3 linked regions of the Homo sapiens genome follow. The protein of the gene in region 2 purifies or fractionates together with the protein of the main gene of each other region. This does not show direct contact. Each region holds a gene or a part of one and is shown on either strand. Other genes may lie near its edges.

The links.
Region 1: the proteins of OGDHL (region 2) and MGME1 purify together in Homo sapiens (co-immunoprecipitation; 2 studies listed by BioGRID and IntAct, with this or other methods). This does not show direct contact.
Region 3: the proteins of OGDHL (region 2) and DLD purify together in Homo sapiens (affinity purification with mass spectrometry; 3 studies listed by BioGRID and IntAct, with this or other methods). This does not show direct contact.

The regions. Positions count from the first base shown.
Region 1 is NC_000020.11:17,971,933-17,979,040, reverse strand, and holds part of MGME1 (mitochondrial genome maintenance exonuclease 1 isoform 2 precursor), read right to left. Parts: intron 6,335-7,108; coding exon of another isoform or gene 6,290-6,334; intron 3,358-6,289; coding exon 3,138-3,357; intron 1-3,137. UniProt on the Homo sapiens protein: Metal-dependent single-stranded DNA (ssDNA) exonuclease involved in mitochondrial genome maintenance. Has preference for 5'-3' exonuclease activity but is also capable of endonuclease activity on linear substrates.
Region 2 is NC_000010.11:49,738,312-49,745,419, forward strand, and holds part of OGDHL (2-oxoglutarate dehydrogenase-like, mitochondrial), read right to left. Parts: coding exon 7,033-7,108; intron 6,442-7,032; coding exon 6,339-6,441; intron 5,812-6,338; coding exon 5,683-5,811; intron 4,668-5,682; coding exon 4,517-4,667; intron 2,527-4,516; coding exon 2,399-2,526; intron 1,529-2,398; coding exon 1,350-1,528; intron 1-1,349.
Region 3 is NC_000007.14:107,894,082-107,901,189, reverse strand, and holds part of DLD (dihydrolipoyl dehydrogenase, mitochondrial isoform 1 precursor), read right to left. Parts: intron 1-7,108. UniProt on the Homo sapiens protein: Lipoamide dehydrogenase is a component of the glycine cleavage system as well as an E3 component of three alpha-ketoacid dehydrogenase complexes (pyruvate-, alpha-ketoglutarate-, and branched-chain amino acid-dehydrogenase complex).

The sequences.
Region 1 (7,108 bases), on a different chromosome or scaffold from region 2:
TTTGGGAGGCTGAGGCGGGCAGATCACTCAAGGCCCGGAGCTCGAGACCAGCCTGGGCAACATGTCCAAACCCCATCTCTACTAAAAACACAAAAAATTAGCCAGGCGTGGTGGTGGGTGCCTGTAGTCCTAGCCACTTGGGGAGGCTGACACAGGAGAATTGCTTGAACCCAGGAGGCAGAGGTTGCAGTGAACTGAGATTGGGCCACCACACTCCAGTCTGGGTGACAGAGCAAGACTCTGTCTCAAAAACAAAAACAAAAACAACAAAAAAAAACCGTAGTTTCAAAAATGTTCATATTACCAAGGTTGATGTTGACTTAAAAAGCAAAAAACAAACAACAGTGCTATGGACATATTTTATCATCTCTATGACAAGCATTGGGTGTCAGGAACTTCTTGTAGGCCTTGGGTGGAGGTGACTGTATGGCTTCCTTGGTTTATCTAAAAGGCAACCAAAGTCTATTAAATCTCTTGGTATACAGGGCTCTTCTCAGATATGACGCAGTTGTGCTATAAAACCATTAGGTGGTCTAGGCCAGGCGCGGTGGCTCACGTCTGTAATCTCAGCACTTTGGGAGGCTGAGGTGGGTGGATCACCTGAGGTCAGGAGTTCGAGACCAGCCTGGCCAACATGGCGAAACCCCATCTCTACTAATAACACAAAAATTAGCCGGGTGTGGTGGCGTGCACCTCTAATCCCAGCTACTTGGGAGGCTGAGGCAGGAGAATCGCTTGAACCCAGGAGGCAGAGGTTACAGTGAGCCAAGATCACGCCATTGCACTCCAACCTGGGCAACAAGAGTGAAACTCCGTCTCAAAAATAAATAAATAAAAAATAAAACCATTAGGTGGTCTAAACAGTTTTCAGACTATCAAGGGTGCCCACTCTTTCGGCTTCCTGGCCCACATTGGAAGAATTGTCTTGGGCCACACAATAGCTGATGAACTAAAAATAAATAAATAAATAACCAAAAAAAAATCTCATAATGTTTTAAGAAAGTTTACGAATTTGTATTGGGCTGTGGAATAGACAAGCTTTTAAACTTAAATTTTAACTAGAGCTTCAAGGTTTACATGAACGGATTTTTCTATCTTGTTCTTAGTGATCGCTTGCCTTATTTGGATTAGGGGTACCTGCAGGTTGTAGCCACCTTTGTATCAGAGGCGTTCGAACGAGAGCAACTCCATCTTGAGTGAGGGCTAGGAAAGTGAGGCTGGGCCTTGCTGGGCTGCATTCCCAGAAAGTCAGGCATTCATAGCCTCTAGATGTTTAAGGTTAAGGGAACAAATTAATAATGTTTACTAAACAGACCCAGACTTGGGAGTGTCCAGATACCCTGATATCTGGAGAACGAAGGCATTCCTAATTTTGCTTTAAAGATAGTATCGATTCTTGCAAAATATAATAATTAAGAAAATTAATCCTTTATCACAAACCCTTGCAGTAGAGCACATCTCCCCAAGATCTCTTTTTTTATCTTATATATATGAGCACTGTACTTAGGGTGGAAGTGTTCCTCCTCTTACTTTCAGGAACGCCCTGCTCTGTCTATGGAGTAGCTATACTTCCACTACTTTACTTTATTAATAAACCTGCTTTTACTTTGCACTGCAGACTCATCCTGAATGCTTTTTCTTTTCTTTCTTTTATTTTTTTTTTTTTGAGACAGAGTCTCACCTGTTGCTCAGGCTGGAGTGCAGTGGCACCATCTCGGTTCACTGCAACTTCTGCCTCCCGGGTTAAAGTGATTCTCCTGCCTCAGACTCCCGAGTAGCTGGGACTATAGGCACACACCACTGCGCCTGGCTAATTTTTGTATTTTTAGTAGAGACGGAGTTTTGCCATGTTGGCTAGGCTGGTCTTGAACTCCTGACCTCAGGTGATCTGCCCACCTCGGCCTCCCAAAGTGCTGGGATTACAGGCGTGAGCCACTGTGCCTGCCTTCAACCTAAATTCTTTCTTGCCCGAGATCGAAGAACCCTCTCGGGGTCTGGATCAGGACCCCTTTCCTGTAACACTTGGACTCTGAAGTACCTGAGTAAAACAGTAAGACAGCTACGATATAAAAACCATGGGGACCGGGCGTGGTGGCTCATGCCTACAATCCTAGCACTTTGGGAGGCTGAGGCAGGCGGATCACCTGAGGTCCGAAGTTCGAGACCAGCCTGACCAACATGGAGAAACCCCATCTCTACTAAAAATACAAAATCAGCCACACATGGTGGCGCATGCCTGTAATCCCAGCTACTTGGGAGGCTGAGGCAAGATAATAGCTTGAACCTAGGAGATGGAGGTTGCAGTGAGCTGAAATCGCACCACTGCACTCCAGCCTGGGCAACAAGAGCAAAACTCCGTCTCAAAAAACAAAACGAAACAAAACAAAACAAAACAACCATGGGAAGCTTTAGTAAGTTCAGATCTCTGATCCATGTCAAGCACTGCCTGGAAGCCAGGAAGAGTTGATTTTCAGAACCAACAGATCATGGTGCTATCTTTAGAAAAACAGGAAAGAAAACGCAGGAATGAAATTGGATCTTATGGCAGGTACCTTGCTTTGGGGGAGGGGAAGGACAGGCTGGCAAACAGGCCATGTTAGGGAGATTGAAAAATCTCGGCCAGGTGCAGTGGCTCACGCCTGTAATCCCAGCACTTTGGGAAACCAAGGTGGATGGATCACTTGAGGTCGGGAGTTTGAGACCAGCCTGGCCAACATGGTGAAACCCTGTCTCTACTAAAAATACAAAAATTAGCCAGGTGCGGTGGTGCATGCCTGTAGTCCCAGCTACTCAGGAGGCTGAGGCAGGAGAACCGCTTGAACCTGGGAGACGGAGGTTGCAGTGAGCCAAGATTGCACCACTGCACTCCAGCTTGGGTGACACTCCGTCTCAAAACAAAACAAACAAACAAAGAATATACCTTTCTCCAGCAAACAATTTGATTTTGGAGTACTGGATGACAAAGGTTACGTGGCTCTTCTCCTTGTACCTGTTCTCAACCCCGCCCCACCCAATTCTTTTACCTAGCACAAAGGTCTGGACATTAAACAGACAGAGGCTACAGTACCTACAGGCACACCTTTGACAGGCACCATCTGTCCTACGCTGTATTAATTCACCTCCAATCTCATACTTACTGATACTCAGCCACACAGTCCAGCAGACCTATATAGTTTAAGGTTTCATGTTGAACAGCACTTTCAAGAGCTCGCACTCCACTGACATCTTTCAGAATATGCTGGACACTTTCAATGTAACCAGACTTGAGGAGATTTTCATCTCTCTCTTTTAAGGTTTCCTGGGGTGAAAGTATGCTTTCCAAGGCTTCGTGGAACCGTTTCCCTTGTAAAAAGACGTCTGAAAAGAAAATCAGGGAAAAGGGGAGGGGGGAAACACAAACAAAGCTAACACTGAAAAACAAATACTCTAAAACGCCCTGAAACAATACAATTAAAAATGACATTTTTTTTTCTTTTTTTTTTTTTTGGATGGAGTCTCCCTCTGTCGCCCAGGCTGGAGTGTAGTGGGCGATATTGGCTCACTGCAACCTCTGCCTCCTGGGGTCAAGTGATTCTCCTGCCTCAGCCTCCTGAGTAGCTGGGATTACAGGCGCCCGCCACCGTGCCTGGCTAATTTTTCTACTTTTAGTAGAGATGGGGTTTCACCATATTGGTGAGGCTGGTCTCGAACTCCTGACCTCGTGATCTGCCAGCCTTGGCCTCCCAAAGTGCTGAGACTACAGGCATGAGCCACCGTGCCCGGCCAAAAATTACATTAGTTATTTTTAAGTGACAACCCCTAAGACCAAATTTCAGCCTCTTGTGAAACCTAAGAATATACTTTGAAACCAACGGGATTATTAATAGGACGTTAGGTAATAAAATGAATTAAAATTAAGTACTTCTAGGAGAATTGGGCCAAAGTCAAAACTGAAGATCTGGCGGCTACAAGACCACATCCAGTTTATGGTACTATGTGTTTAAGTATCCAATGTAATAAGTTAACTGGCTGTGATAAAATAAAAAAAAATTAGAAATCTAGGGAACTGTGCTTCTGTTTGTAGTTCTTTTTAGACCAAAACTTAATTATGAACATAGGTGGGGGAATCCTTTTACTAACAGGATTAGTGACAAACAAGGAATGGAAAATAAGGCATGCGCAAATGAAAAGTTATGAATTTGATATTATGGAATCTGGAGGGGGAGGAAGAGGAAAATATGTGACATTCTTCTCCTGTATTTTTTTTTTAGTGCTGGAACAGCCTGAAAAATTCAGCTGTGTCTCAATTTTTTTCCCTCATACATTTTTCTATTCTAATATTTAATATTTAACATGTAATATTTTTCTAATTAGCTTTAGATTATTAGAATTCTGATTTATGGCTTGTAGGAGGACACATCTTCTTTCTTCCTAACATTTTATAACATGTGAATACTAGAGAAATTTCATTAGGACACATTAGGACACATTATTTTTCCTGTATGTTCATTTTCTGAGGTCAAAGCCTTACTTTTCGTCCCCAGGTTTCTCCGAAAGAACTGTAGTGTCTGGATTTGTTGGCGTATCCCAGGATCTAACTTGATTTTTGAACTCTCTCCTCATTTTCAGTGCTCGTTGGCCTCCAAGCGCTTGCATAGTAAGCCCCCTCCTCATACACATTTTAAAAAAGGGAACATGGCCGGGCATGGTGGCTTATGCCTATAATCCCAGCACTTTGGGCAGCCAAGGCAGGCGGATTACCTGAGGTCAGGAGTTCAAGACCAGCCTGGCCAACATGGTAAAACCCAGTCTCTACTCAAAATACAAAAATTAGCCAGGTGTGGTGGCGCATGCCTGTAATTCCAGCTACTCTGGAGGCTGAGGCAGGAGAATTGCTTGAACCCAGGAGGCAGAGGTTGCAGTGAGCCAAGATCATGCCACTGCACTCCAGCCTGGGTGACAGAGCAAGACAATCTCAAAAAAAAAAAAAAAAAAAAAAACACACAAAGAGACTCAACAAACACAAGAAATATATTCACTTGTTTCTTAGTAAGAGGAGAGAAAGAGGGGGGACTGTTATGCTAAGCAATGGCCTTGGAGCTTTCAAAACATTATTTAATTTTCAAACCCAACAACCCAGCAAAATAGGGATTGTAAGTTACCCCCATTTTAATGAATGAGGCCCTATCCCACCAGGCAGTGCTGTTAATTTGCCCCAAAGCAAAAAGCTGGACAGGCAGCCTGGCACCAGAATCTGTTTCCAATCTACCACACAGTAGAGCAAAGGAAGCAATCTTGGAAATCACCAATTAGATACTCAGAGAAACAGAGCAGGAAATACACGTGCTTGGAACATGCTTGCAGAGAGACCCACAGAAAAGGCGGAAAACAACTTTACATTTGTCAAGTTTTTTTTTTTTTGAGACAGGGTCTTACTTGTCACCCAGGATGGAGTGTACTGGCTCGATCATTGCTCACTGTAACCTTGAACACCTGGCCTTAAGCAATCCTCCTGTCTCAGCTTCCTCTACAGGCATGTGCCACCACGCCTGGCTAATTCAAAAAAATTTTTTTTTTGTAGAGATGCAATCTCTCTACGTTGCCTAGGCTGGTCTTAAACACCTGGCCTCAAGCAATCGTCCCACCTTGGTCTCCCAGAGTGCTGGGATTACAGGCATGAGCCACTGCACTCGGCCTTCAACTATTTTTTACAAAGATGGAAATGTCAATTCTTTTTTTTTCCAGGCTGGAGTGCAGTGGTATGATCTCGGCTCACTGCAATCTCCACCTCCCAGGTTCAAGCGATTCTCCTGCCTCAGCCTCCGTAGTAGCTGGGATTACAAGTGATCGCTGCGCCCGGCTAATTTTTTTGTATTTTTAGTAGAGATGGGGTTTCGCCATTTTGGCCAGGCTGGTTTTGAACTCCTGACCTCAAGTGATCCGCCTGCTTCGGCCTCCCAAAGTGCTAGGATTACAGGCATGAGCCACTATGCCCAGCTGGAAATGTCAATTCTATCATTAGCAAAAAATGGAATCCCTTCTGAAAAATTATTTGGAGAGTTAAATGAAATTCAACTTAGGAACTAAGTTATTCTACTCCAAATTTACTTGACTCAATTGGAATTATTAACACGTGAAAGACCTACAAGAAATTTATGACTGATGGAATTAAAGCCTAGGAAAAAGAAGTGTATAGCATTCATCTACACACTAGGTTAATGAAGCAGAAGACAAACATGTTAAAAACAGGAAGAAAAAAACTTAGCAAATGCCATGCCAATAGACCATACATTTCTCGCTGCAAACTTACCCCTGGCTAGGTTCTTCATATACACATGATCACAAACATGAAAACCTAGATTACAGGATCCTTTAGACACTAAGGCTCAGAACATTCAACATGATTCAATTTATAAAAATAAAAAATGATCCAAGAATATTCACTGCATGTAGCATCAAGTCTGCTTATTCACTCAAAGTAATGAAAGTGAAATGTTTTCAAGTCCTCGTATATGAAGTGCACTAAAAAAAACCTTCATGCATCTCCAGTATTCTCATGATGGAACTGGCAGGATGGCTAATACTTCAGGATTAAATCAGCGTAGCAAAAAAAAAAAAAAAAAAATTAAAACCTAAACCCCATCCCTTTGTGTGTATTTATACACAAAATATAAATCAGAATAAGTCAGACTTTCTCATTCCCACCAGTCTTCAAAAGATGAACTGATGCTTGGGAAACTGCTCAAGTATTTGGAAGAATGCCAGACACATTTCTATGCTCTCACCTTTGAGAAGACTGGGTAGAAATTACTGATCCAATATTTTTCATTAAAAAAATCTTCTTAATTTTTAAAATGTAATTCTTCTTGGGTGCCACCTTCTTGGGTTTGGGATCCAGTATCCTCCAGACCCGTTAATCAATTTAGTGAGCCCTTTTTCTTTTATTCACCATGACACTAATTGTCCCTTTATTTATTTCAGAACCCACTGCTTACTAATACTTATTTTCTAAAAAGAGTGATTCTGCCTGGGCACAGTGGGTCACACCTGTAGTCTCAGTATTCTGGGAGGCCGAGGTGGGAGCACCACTTGAAGACAGGAGTTGGAGACTAGCCTGGGCAACATAGGG
Region 2 (7,108 bases):
CATCTGGCCCTGCAGGGACCCCAGGCTCAGGGGAAAGTCTGGAGGGCTTCTCAGCAGAGGTGCCCTCACCCTGGAGCCTGAACCATAGAAAAGAACCAAGAATGTGGAACAAGAGCAGAATGGGAATCCTCAGAGTGGGGTCTGCCCAGAGCTAGCACAGTATGTGAACTTGCAGGGACAGAAGAAAAAGCAAAAAGCCCGCACTGAGACGTGCTTTCTCTGGAATGTCCTGGAACAGTGGCTGCCACTGACTGAGCACCTGCTGTACAGGAGGCAGAGTTCTAGGAATCCCACACGCCTTATCGCTAACCCCCAAAGTAGCCCCATGATGCAGACACTCTTCCCCACTGCACAGATGAAGAGGCAAGGAGAGGGTAAGAAACCACCCATGACCACACAGCCAGGCAGGGGCCAACCCAACTCGGCCTGGGCCTCGCCCACCCTCACCCACACGGACCGCTCTGCTCCATGAAAGCAGCAAGACAAGCCCAGGGGCATCTCCAAGCCAGCTCCTGCAGGACGGGGATGACCCACTGCACAGCTGCCACTTGCCCTCTCTTGGTGGGGACGGCCAAGGACCCAGCCCCCCACACCCAGCCTGGCCCAGATCTGGCCTCCCAAGAAGCTGCCTTCACGGCAGGCAGCCCCAAGCAGGGAGCCTCACCTCCCTCCTCACTGATACCCGGTGTTGTGAGGATGCCGAGTATGCAGCCTGTAAAGTGCTCATAACATGCCACTCAGGGATAATGGTGGCAATGAGCCCCCTGCCTGTCTCCCTTCTGCCTGGTCAGGCCACCTGCCCACCAGATGGTATCACATGACACCCTGCTCCTTCCTCCCTTCCTGCTAGCCCAGGAGCCTCCGGAGGATGCACCCAGCCTGCATGTCTTCCCTCTGCCCCATGTGTGGCTGCAGAGGCAGGTCATACAGGAGGGGACCAGAGAACAGGCAGTACTGCACAGGATAGCTTCAAACCCCAGCTACTAGCTGTGAAACCTTGGGCAACCTACTCCCCAGCTCTGTGCCTCTGTTTCCTCATCTGAAAAGCAGGAACACAGCCTACTTCATTAAGTTGTATGGATTGGAAGAGTTAACATTCAGAAGCATTGAACAGTGCCTGGCGCACAGCAAGCACTCATACGTGGTAGCGCCTTCTGCTGCCAGGGGTAGCATCATCGTCTCAGCAGCTGCAGCATGCACATGTGCAGACCCCACCCTGCACAGACCCACGTGCTCCAGGGGCCTGGAAGGCATATACCGTCCAACCCGACAAGGGGCCCAGGGTCCATCCCGCCCCTTCAAGGCCCGCCAGAACCCACCAAGCCACCAGCCACCACCGCAGCCCTCACCATGCCTTCCATGCCATGGGGCAGCAGCAGCACAATGCCATTATGCCGCACCCACTTGGCCTGGCCGGTGCTGATGAACTGGTCGATGATGCACTGGGCCGTGTTGTGGAAGTCCCCAAACTGGGCCTCCCAGAGGACCAGGGCATTGGGGCTGGCCATGGCATAGCCCAGCTCAAAGCCTAAACAGAAGACAAGATAGAGCTTGCTGCACACAGTCACCAAGTGGCAGTGGCTCCAGTCAAATTTAGCCTTTCTCAGTATATCCTCCATGCCCCCACCCATCCTTCTCACAAGCCAGGACGAACCCAGGGATTCCCTGGGATTCAAAGGGTACAATGTACCATCCTGGGGGCTGACAACATGCTCAGAGATGCTACCCTCAGCCCTGCTATCATGTGTGGTCAGGTTCAACCTTATTTAGGTATCCTGGGGAGGCAACAGGGACCATCTGTCAAGAACTCCTTAAAAACATGCAGAGCTGCTAAGGAGAAGGGGCAGAAACAGCCCTAGAGGCATCTGCCTGGGGGCGGGGGGCTGCCTGGCCTCTAGGGGCAGGCAGTGAGGACGAGGTGAGCCAGCTAATGATGCATCTGAGGGAGAGCATGCACAGGGGACACAGGCAGGGAAGCCCAGAGCCCAGAGAAGGGATCTCAGTGCAGTGTTCCTAGGGTGCAGGGCAGAGGAGGCAAGATGGGGCTCAAAGGAATGTGAGAGGGCTGGGCCAAGACTGGACTGCTCAGCAGCTGGAACCCACAGCAGACTGTGTTGGGCTCTCTGTCTGCGCCCACTGGGGCCCTGATACCCACAAAACCCCTCAAGGCAAGGAGGTCCCCCCAACTGGGATCCCCAAGGGGCCCAGATGGGACACGATTTCACCTCCCACATGGCCTTAGGTGAGGGCAGCCCAATCACCATCCCCCAGGGCCATCCCCTAAGGGCCTCTGAGCATCTCTCGCCCCTCCCAGGCCCTGGCCCCGGTCCCTTCCCAGCCCATCTCTTGTCCCCAGGTGTCTGGGGCCTGCCTGGCCTGCAGGAGAGCGTGGACCCACCCAGGACTCCGTACTCCGAGAGGGAGCTGTTGCACACGGTGTACGGGGCCTGGTCAGGCCAGAGATGATTCATAGGCACACACGTCCTGCGGTCAACCTCCTGGTCATGGAGAACATGGTGCCGGTGACTGCAGAGACACAGACCGGGGCAGGGACAGAGGGCAGGTGGGCTGGCACCTGTTCACCTGGAGCAGGGGAGCTGGGCAGCAGGAGGCAGGCAAGCCTCCGTCACTGTCCCAGGAAACCTGCAGGGTCCCACAACATGGCATCCAAGAAGGCTGTGGAAAACCAGAGCCATGTGGTCCCTCCTGCAGCCTGTCCCCCACCAGGCCTCCCCAGCCTGCCCCCTGCCTGCTAGCAGCGCCCACACACCACGCACTGGGGGGTCTGGGGGAAGGAGCTGTGAGTTGTGGCACCTCTCTGAATGTCAGCTTTTCACCCATAAAGGGGACCTGATAAGACACTTCCCAGGTGCCAGCTAGAGCCAGAGACCCTAGGAGGCCACTTCCCCTGCCCCGTCTTGCTGGCTTCTTTACCATCTCACCAGCCCTGTCCCAACTCACAAGAGGCAGAAACCACCGTGCAGTAGCCGAGGTGGGCACAGTAAGTGAGGGGCGCCTGGCTGAACCCCAGTCCCTGGCAAGGACTGACAGGTAGCTCTGGGTGCATCAGAGGGCCACCTGGGCCCTGGCTGGAGCAAGACCAGCCGAGATAAGCAACCAGGAATGAGAAAGCCAGCTGGTCAAGTCCTGGAAGCCACACCACCCTGGCTTGCTAACCAGGAGCGGACTGAGGCAGGATCTAGAACATTTTAGGAACCCGAACCAGAGGAAATGTGGTGTGGACAACTGACAAGTGTCAAGTCCCCATTTGGATTCACAAAGACAACTGCAAACAAGCAAGATAGGGGCTGACTTAACAGCAGTACACACACACACCACACACATACATACACATGCCACACATACCACACACACATACACATCCCCACACACCAAACACATACATACACACACACCACACACATACATACACACACCACACACACCAAACACCACATACACACACATCACACATACCACACATACATGCAAAACACACCACACACATATACACCACACACATCCATGCACACACACCAAACACCACACACACTACACACACCACACATACCACACACACCACACATACCACACAACACACACACCACACAGACTACACACCACAAACACAATCACACACACCACACACACTACATACACTACACACACACAACCACACACACCCCACAAATACCACACCACACATGCACCAAACATGACACATACCACACATATCACACGCACACCACACTACACACCACACACCCCACACATACCACACAAACACCCTCACACACATTACACACATACACACCCTACACACACACCAAACATACACACACATCACACACACCATACACGCCCCACACACACTATACACACCCCACACACATACGCACACCCCCACAAACCACACACGCACACACCACACATACACCACACATACCCCATACACACTCAACACACAACACACACCACACACACCACAAATGCACCACACCCACCACAAACACCACACACGACACACACCACACATGCACCACACAACACACCACACACCCACAAATACACACCACACCCCCACACACACCACACACACCATACACACATACACACCACACATACAACAAACACACCACACACACGCACCACACACACCCCCTATACACTCCCCCCACTCACCACATACCACACACCACATACACACCAAACACACCACACACACACACCACACACAACTCGCCCACACTCACCACACACCCCCCACACACACATGATCCTGAGGACCACAGATGGCCACCAGCTTGACCTTAGTGGACAGCTTGGGCCCAGCAGTGAGCTCTGCACACTTGCCCTGGGGGGTCAGCGAGGTGGCCATCTGATGATGCCACCTGAGGGCAGGGGCTAGGGATGCTGTGAAGATCCCACCCCAACAAAGGCCCCCTCGGGATCCCCAAGCCAGGCCCAGCTTCTGCTCCAGGTCTCCTGTGCGGATGCTGAGCCCCACTGCGCTCACCTGAATGTGCCCCTCTCCACATCCTGCCCGCTGAGCCGCACGTGGATGCCTTCCTTCAGCAGGGAGCCAAAGGCCATGTACTCTGCCAACGCCCAGTCCACCGTCCGGTTCTTGGTCATGTCCGCACGGCCCCGCAGAATGCGAGAGAGGCCTGTGGGAAAGGAGTGCTGGCCTGAGGGCCAAGGGACAGCCAGCCCTGGGGCGGGTAGGTAGGTGCTCAGCACACACCCCGCACAAAGCAGGGCAGCCATCTGTTGATTTGGTTGGAGGGCAGGGATGCTGCAGGAGGGCCCAGGGCCAGGCACCCCTCCTCCAGCTGAGACAAGGGGCTACCCCGAGCCTGTGGAGGGGTGGAGCAGGTACCACTTGGCAAGCATTGGCCACGTTGCAGACACCGTCAGGCTCAGAGTCATTTACTCAGATCACACAGCTGTCAAGGTACACGGATTTGACTCCAAGTCCCCAGGCTTATGCTGTGCTCCTGTCAGCCCCACACACAGAGGCTAACACACAAACAGAGCGGGCACATGCCCCAAACGCTGTCAGCAGCTGCCCCAGGACATTCGGTCTCGGTGCACACTGTAAGGGAACCCCCTCAGAACTCCCCCAGGTGGGTCAGAGGGTGTGTAGGCACCCCAATACAGCCACAGGGGACCCTCCGGACTTCCCAGGCAAAGGTCACAGTGGCCCCAGCCAAGGGATGCAGTCGGTGACCACCCACATTCTAGTCTCACCCCGGAGTGGGGGGGCTGCCCTCGGTCATTGGTCCAGGCCCCGGCAAGCCACCGTCCTTTCAGCTGCAGAATTCTGCCCACGTTCCAGGCTGCGTTCCAGCCCCTGTATGGGAGCCCTTGCTTTCCTGCTCTTCTGCCTGACCCAGGGACGCCCCGGCAAAGGCATTTGGAAAATCCAAGGTCCCCAACCTAAGACTAGTCACTGGTACCCAGCTGGGAGTGTGGCATCTGGAGCTGCCCAGCTCGCCACGCCCACCCTGAAAAGAGCTACTGTCACGGGCACAGACATGGTGCCGAGAGCTACGTGGACCCACTACAGACTGAGCAGGAATGCGACACACCATCTCTCTTGCATCCCAACCAATCTCCCTTCGAGGCACAGTGTTGGGGTGGGGCCAGCAGCCTGGGCTGCAGCCTGTCCAGCAACCTCACCAGTGTGGATCTTAAAGTCCTCCAGGGGCACAGAGCTGGCCACACTGCCGATGTGGGTGAGCATGTCCTCAGGGATCCCCGTGGCTGGGCATGTCATGCTCTTGGGCTCCCCATCTACGTTGAAGAAGCCTGAGAGGGAGAGAGGCTCTGTCCACACTGTGTCAGTGGTGGGTTCTGATCCCCCTGGCCAGCCTGCCTCCCCAGGACTGAGTGGCCCATGGCTTCCCAAACTCCACCGGCACTCGGACTCACCCTGAGCCCACCCTTGGGACCTGGGACAGCTGGACAGCCACAGCTGCAACTCCCCCACAGGCCCAACACCCACCTCTGGGCCCCAGGGTAACAGCTCTTCTAACCCTGCCCCCCAGGGAGGCCCTCTGAGCACCCTGGCCCCAAGCATCCAGTGCCCAGGGCTTCCTCTCCCACCTGGCTATGCCCTCCCTTTTCAGTGAGCACCTGGCCATCCATGCTCAGAGGGCAATGCTATCCTTGACTTGCAGGAATCGGCCCCACGCAGCTTTGGGGACTCAGTGATAGAGCCTGCAGCCTCTAGACTAGGCAATGACAGCTGTCACCCAGGGCCATTCCAGTCCTGATCCCAGTGCAAGACCTCAAGGCCCAGGGGAGTCCCTCTGAGCCACACACTGCTCGCTCACCAGGCCAGGGGGAGTCCAACCAGTGCTTTATATGCAGAATCTTTTTATCCTTGGACCTGCCATAAGCCTCCTCACAGATCCGGTCGTATTTGGCAATTTCTTCCTGGAATCAGGATGAAGATGTGGACAGAGCACCAAAGCCCTGCGCAGCCAGACGCCCAGTCCACTTGGACTCGTAAGTCCTGGTCCCCATCACCAAGTTCTTCTAGAACTCTCTGTCTCTGGCCTATAGGGACCTCATGGCTAGAAGCCAAAGTCTCAGAGTTCAGGGGATCCTGTACAGGTACCCCGAGGCTGGGCAGGCCTGCAGTGCGCTCAGCAAGGGGCTTGGAGAAGGCTCTGGAAACTTGTAGTCCTTGCCCTCAGAGCTCCATGAAGGTGGAAGGACGAACACTCCATAGATAATTATGGGGACAACCCCAGCTCAGGGCTGCCTCCTACAGGAAGCCTTCCCGCACTCCTGCTCAAGGCTGGACTTCCCCCACATTGCAGTACCCACTGTGTCCCACTTGGCTGTAACTGCATCCTTAGTTCTTGGTCCCCTTTGGTAACTGGGGCCTCTTGGGGACAAGGACCATAGTGGCTACTTCTTTAAATCCTTAGTGCCCAGCACTGGGCTGGTAACATCTACAACCCCTCTCCAGGGTCCCCACCCAAAGTTTGTCTTGGGCGCCCCTGCAGCCTGCCTGCCCACCTCAAACTCCTGCAGGGTGACTGTGCCCTCGGCAATCAGCTTGTCTGCGTACTTCTTCAGCACAGGCACCTGTCTG
Region 3 (7,108 bases), on a different chromosome or scaffold from region 2:
TACCTTTTTCAGGTCCTTAACTTCTGAAATATGAGGGAAAAAACAGCTTCTATGTAATATTTAACAAATATGTTTTGTACTTGCATATTGATAATTTTTACATACCTTAAGATAATAGGCTAACCAGAATATTCAATTAACTATTGTGGCCATTTTTCAAATAAAGATAAAAAATTGAAAATTAATTTTGATCAGTATCCTTAGGAGTTTAACAATTGTAATACAAATGTGCAAGTAAGTCCAATTACTCCCATTCTTCTCAATCCAACTTCAAATAAAGTAACAGTGACTGTTAAGAGTTAGGAAACAGTCTCCCTTTTCTTCCCCTTCCACTGTCCTGACAACCCCAACTAGTCTAGCATTTAGCAATTCATAACACATATTCACATATATTATCATGTTTGAGTCTCAGAATTTCCTATGAGGAAGATAAAGATGTCATAAATAAGACATTTCACAGAATAAACAAGAAGTTCAGAGAGGTCAATTAACTTGTCTAAGGTTAACCAGCAAGTGAGTTGCAGAGACAAACTAAGCTTTTTGACTCTACTTCCGGTGGTCTTTCCATTATTCAATACTATTCCATTCCTCAGTTTTAACCATCATAAACTAAAATTCCAGAGAGCAATAATCAAGCTTTATAATCACTACCTATGTGACCTTAGGTGAGTAATTTAACCTGCTTCATCTTTGTTTCCATACCTGGCAAAAGAAAGACCACAAAAAAAACCTACTTCATAGGGTGATAACAGAATAAAATAATGTATGTAAATAATTTAGCATAGTACCTATAGCATACATAATAAGTATTCTATACATAGTAGCTATATTCTGACCTACAAAGAAGACTATTTTAATTTGCATCACCCCCTCTCCCCAAAAACACACATCCCTAGAGTAGGATCATTCAAAAAACCTTTGCTGGCCTGAACAGAATCACAGAACCTCTGTGTTGGTGGATAACTAAGTTACTCAGCCCAATTATCCACAAAATCTAAGAATCCCTCCTGTTGAATAAATGAAAATACTAGATTCTCTTTGGTTATAGCAGATGATAATTGAGATAATACATGAAAAAATATGTATAGTCATTTCAATACATGAAAAATTGCTTCAATTTTTACTGATCCATCTGTGCTTTTTAGCCACCCTGCTTGGTTCACTGATTTCGGTTCAGAATTAAGTATCTAATAAAATGTATTTTTATTTTCAAATCTTGAACCAAATGACGATCTACACAACATCCCTTAAATGGGTTCTAATTTTTAATTTCAGAGTAATGTAAATACAAGCTACAAAACAGGTTTCTTTGCTGAATTTTTAATGTCTTTTCTGATTAAAAATTTAGGTTTACTGAATAAATTTAAATACACTAAAGCAAAATTAAAAAAAAAACAACCCATCCACATTGCCATACAGCCCAGAGAGAACTGTTTATAGGTCCTCCCAATCCTTCTTCTAGGAAAGTTTTTATAAAATTCAATTTTTGCCATATTTTATATTCTTTTCTCACTCTTACATGAGCATATATATTTATAACATATATTACTGCTATAATTCTCCAAAAACCCTTTTAATGACAATAAAACTGAATTAAATATTTTAGATTTTAAGTATATGTATTTTTGAGCATATACTTTTAATCACTGATATGTAACAATTCTTATAGTAGGTCCATGGTACTAAAATGATAAATAAATTTGGTTTGGAAAAGAACTTGTTTTAGTAAGGTCAGGAGAAGTAAACAAGAGATAAAAGATAATAGCCAAAAACCTTGGGTTTTACTTCCCTATTCACTATGTAATCTTAGGTGTTTTTTTTTAAACTTCAGAAAATACCAAAAATTCAAGAGCTCCTCTCTCACTGTACATACTAGATGTAATATTCCATTACAATACCACTAAAGTGCTAAGATGCACAAAAATGAGAAAAAAGCAGACTCTTTATGTAAAGATCTGTCAACTGAGAATACAGGAGGGTATAAGCCAGGAACAAACTTTCAAAAACAAACCAGTATTTAGGGGAAGTATACACACGTCTGCACTGATGGATAAACGAATGAGCACATATGTGGTACTGTAAGCACAGAAAATGTTAATGGAAGAAAACTATGGGTGTTCAATGTAAAATTCTTATAATTTTCTAAATGCTTATAATTTTTCATAATAAAATGTCAGAAAAACAAATCATCTACCTCTCACCTGTACCAAAGGATGCATATAAATGAAAGCTGATAACACATGATTCTGACTCACCCTCTCCTTGTCAAGAATAATTTCACAGGTTGAGTCCCATACATAAAGTTAAAAAATCAGGGCCGGGTGTGGTGGCTCACACCTGTAATCCTCAGCACTTTGGGAGGCCGAGGCAGGCGGATCACGAGGTCAGGAGATCAAGACCAAACCCCGTCTCTACTAAAAATACAAAAAAAATTAGCCGGGCGTGGTGGCAGGCACCTGTAGTCCCAGCTGCTGGGGAGGCTGAGGCAGGAGAATGGCGTGAACCCAGGAGGCAGAGCTTGCAGTGAGCCGAGATCACGCCACTGCACTCCAGCCTGGGCGACAGTGCAAGACTCTGTCTCAAAAAAAAAGTTAAAAAATCAGGATACAGGCCAGGTGTGGTGGCTCCCACCTGTAATTCCAGCACTTTGGGAGGCCGAGGCAGGTGGATCACCTGAGGTCAGGAGTTTGAGACCAGCCTGACTAACATGGTGAAACCCTGTCTCTACTAAAAATACAAAATATTGCCAGGCGTGGTGGCAAGCACCTGTAACCCCAGCTACTCGGGAGGCTGAGGCAGGAGAATCGCTTGAACCCAGGAGGGGGACGTCGCAGTGAACTGAAATCGTGTCACTGAACTACTCCAGCCTGGGCAACAAGAGCTAAACTCTGTCTCAAAAAAAAAAAAAAAAAAAAAAAAGGATACAGAAAAGTAGTTAAATGAAATACATTTATTTAAGGCAAACCTGATGGAAAAGTGGCAAATGACAGGTGAATAGCAATCTGTGTTTCAGTGAAGTGATTCAAACAAGGTCCTTTAGATTCTGAAATGTGTGCTCCTACCAGGTTTAAAGTATCAGGTTGATACTTTAAAAATACTGGAGTACAATAAGAGGTGACTGACTTAAACAAGGCAATTAATGTTATTAAAATTAACTCAAAGAAAAAAGTCAAGAAAAGTACTCTACAAATTCCTACAAGTGTTACATATTAGATCATTATAAGGAAAATAAGGCACCTGGTTATCCAGGCTACCACTGAAATAAAGGTATTGTGTTACAAATCAATTGTAATCATCAATATAATTACAAGATGTATCTCAAGAAGTCAGTCTGTGTAATCCCAGCACTTTGGGAGGCCAATGCGGGTGGATCACTTGAGGTCAGGAGTTCAAGACCAGCCAGGCCAACATGGTGAAACCCTATCTCTACTAAAAATACAAAAATTAGCTGGGCATAGTGGTGCGTGCCTGTAGTCCCAGCTACTCAGGAGGCTGAGGCATGAGAATCTCCTGAACCCGGGAGGTGGAAGTTGCAGTGAACCAAGATCGCACCATTGCACCCCAGCTTGCATGATAGAGTGAGACCAAGTTTCAAAAAAAAAAAAAAAAAAAAAAGTCAGTCTACAATAATACCTACCACTTGGGTAGCTTAAAATGTGCCAGTTAGTGAGCCAGTCACGTGTACTGTCTTATGTAAGCCTCATTACATTTCTATGACATAGTTTAATACTACCATTAACAGAGGAAGAAAAGGTTGAAAACAACTAAATAATTTGCATAAGGCTACACAACTAGTAAGTAATCTAGCCAGGATTCAAACAAGGTCCTCTAGATTCTGAAATGTGTGCTCCTATATACCATTATGTTCTATTGCCTTCCAAAACACTCAGATGATCCCATAATCTCCAGGACAATCAAGAACTTCAACTAAAATGACAAGAATATGCTTTACAGAATGAAATCAAATATTTATGACTCATCAGTACCTTCAATAACCTTAAAACACAGTGAGAAAAAAGAGGCACATGTCAAAATAAAGGTAAAATCAGATTTTTGGCCAGGCGCGGTGGCTCATGCCTGTAATTCCAACACTTTGGGAGGCCGAGGTGGGTGGATCCCCTGAGGTCAGGAGTTCGAGACCAGCATGGCCAACATGGTGAAACCCCATCTCTACTAAAAATACAAAAATTAGCCGGGCTGGTGGCAGGCACCTGTAATCCCAGCTACTCGGGAGGCTGAGGCAGGAGAATCACTTGAACCCGGGAGGTGGAGTTGCAGTGAGCCAAGATCACGCCACTGCACTCCAGCCTAGGGGACAAGAGCGAGACTTTGTCTCAAAAAAAAAAACAAACAAAAACAAAACCAGATTTTTAAAAAGAAAAAACGAACAGGAAAAGAGATGTCATAAGGCAATAATCATTAATTACCAAATTTACTGAATGTAAGAACTACTTGATAAGGTTTATTTGTTGACATTTTGTTGAGGGGTAAGGGAAGTTGTTTTTACATTGTCAATGGCCTTAATATCCAGTCTTTTTCAGTAACCTCCTCCCATAGTTAACACTCTATACTTGTTATCACCCAAAACTGTTCAGCCTCTGAAATCAATACTCTACTTTCTAGTCATAACCTCCTGGTCCCTAAAGAAGAAATATAGTAAAATAAGAAATGATCTGAAGTAAAACAGACCTGGGTTCCAAACTCTAACCCCGTTAAGTTCTTGGGCAAATTACTCAATCTCTCTGGGCTTTGATACAACATGGGGGTAATAGTAAGGATGACACCTGCAGCCTAGGGTTGTGAGGATCAGAGAGTACGCATGTTAAGATCCTAAGGAGGTGCTAGGTGCATACTAGCAACTCAGTGTCACTCCCCTTCTCAGATCCACCTCCAAACTTCAGTCCAGCAGCCTCTAGCCTCATTCACATCCTCCATTTTAGCCTACCCAGTGCTACCGCAAAGCTAAAACCCAACTCAGATGTTATTCTCTCTGTTGTTACGCTCTGTTGGTTCTCCAGTGTCTTGTTAGATAAAGCCCATGTTCCTAAGTACAGCATCCAAATTCCTTCAGTAACTATTTCTCCAGCCTCATCTCCTACCACGTTCTGTTTACTCACCAATACCATGCAGTTTAAGCTTCAGTAACGGTGAATTACTACTCTTAGCCTACATGCATAGAATTATGCTGGTCTACCTATGTACGATCTGTTCCATCTACCTAGAAATAAACACTAACAGCAGGCATTTCACATTACAAACACTACTTTAGGCTCTTGGAGGGGTGTGTCTGCACATGCTGTGTCTGTGTGTGTGTATATATAAATGACATAGCCCTATTTCTTACAGTCTAAATAAAAAAAAGAATTACAGTAAAAGGTCCAACCTGTAACGAGAGTTACTCTCAACCTTTTTAGCTATCAACATAATTCCTTAGGAAAGAATTATGTGACCATTCCCAATCCATATATAGATGTCATTACTCCCTATGCTTAAGTCTATGGACCCCTGTCACAATTATATGTTGGATGTTTGTCTCCCTCAACTGAATTGTAAGCTCTATAAAAGCTGGGTCTTGTCCGTCTTGCTCACTGCGGTACTCCAGTAGTTAGCCCAATGACTAACACATAGTAGATATTAGTATTTGTCGAAATAATAAAAGAATGAATGAATGTAGTGAATGTGAGTGATATAAGTGCTGTAAGTTTAAGTGTTACAAGTTTGATTAAGTGCTGTCATGAAATAAAACGTCACATCAACAGTAACACACACAACTTTGCAAATTCTGATGAACCTGGTTCATAAGGCTATTCAGACATCTCTCAGATGTTGTAACCAAGACTATATCATAATAAGATTTGAACTCCTCAGGAGAGTCAATCAATACTCATGTAAGGAAGAAAACTCAATAAAACATTAACAGTGTAGGCTCTGAAGTCAAAAGGATTCTCCCAGCTCTGTCATTTCCTAGTTAAAAAACCTAACTCTTCCATCTATAAAATGGGGAGAACAGCAGCACACAGGTAGTAGAAAGGCCATGAGGATTAAATCTGTGCCTGAGACAGAGTGAAGCCCTCAATGCATCAGTTAATATTATTGCTGTTGTAGCTGGTTACTTACTTTGTACAAGACACCATACTGGATGCTTTGCCACAGAGCAGTAATTAAAACAGACCAGGCCCCAGTGTTCATTCATTCAATAAATATGTACTGATTACCTACTGTATCACTTTAGATACTAAACAAAACAGTCACACACAGTCCCTGTCCTGATGAAGTTTGCATTCCTGAGGAAAAGACAGTAAGCATGTACCTCAGATAAAATACAAGTATGTGTGTAAAATGCTTGTTACTGCATCCACTCAAAGCTTTTACACACTTTACACACATGGGTACTAAGTGATTTATGATTTACTCAATGTCAAGGGATCACCAAACTGATTATGGAACACTCAGCCTCATTCCACTAAAATCTAAGTTCTGGCTCAGGGTCTGCCTGGCAAATAGAAGGCACTGAATAATCTCTGCTGAGTGATGCCAAAGGTATAGAGTTAGCCATGAAAAATATCCTTTAGAAATGAAAATCTAACATTTCTCCTGTTATATGAGTTGAGAAGAATGAGATTCCTATTTAACAAGAGACAAAGTGTATAAGAGGTCCAACTTTTCCCTTCATCATCATATTAGCATTTTTTTAAAAGGATTTCTTGACCTGTTCAAAGCTAGAATAAATCACTCACTCACTGTTAGTCATGGGTTACTAGAATCCTCCCCCTACCCTTCCTCTAGAAATAAAATATCCAAAATGATAATGGTTGGATAACAGTTGAGGATACAGGATTAAATTACTTCACAGAATGCAGGGAGACTGATAGTCACAGTTTGCCCAGATAATGATTTCTATAACTGAAGCTTTAAGACATCCAATGTTACTTATAATCCATATGGGTGAATTCAGTAAATGTCAAAACAGTACATTGCAAATAATCAATATCCTTGGTACTGACAGGTCAAAATACTTCAATATAATCCTATTAACTTTCTGTTTTAAATACTTAAAAAAATAAAATGCATATCCTTTATGGGAACTTCAAAAATATAAAAAAAGTAC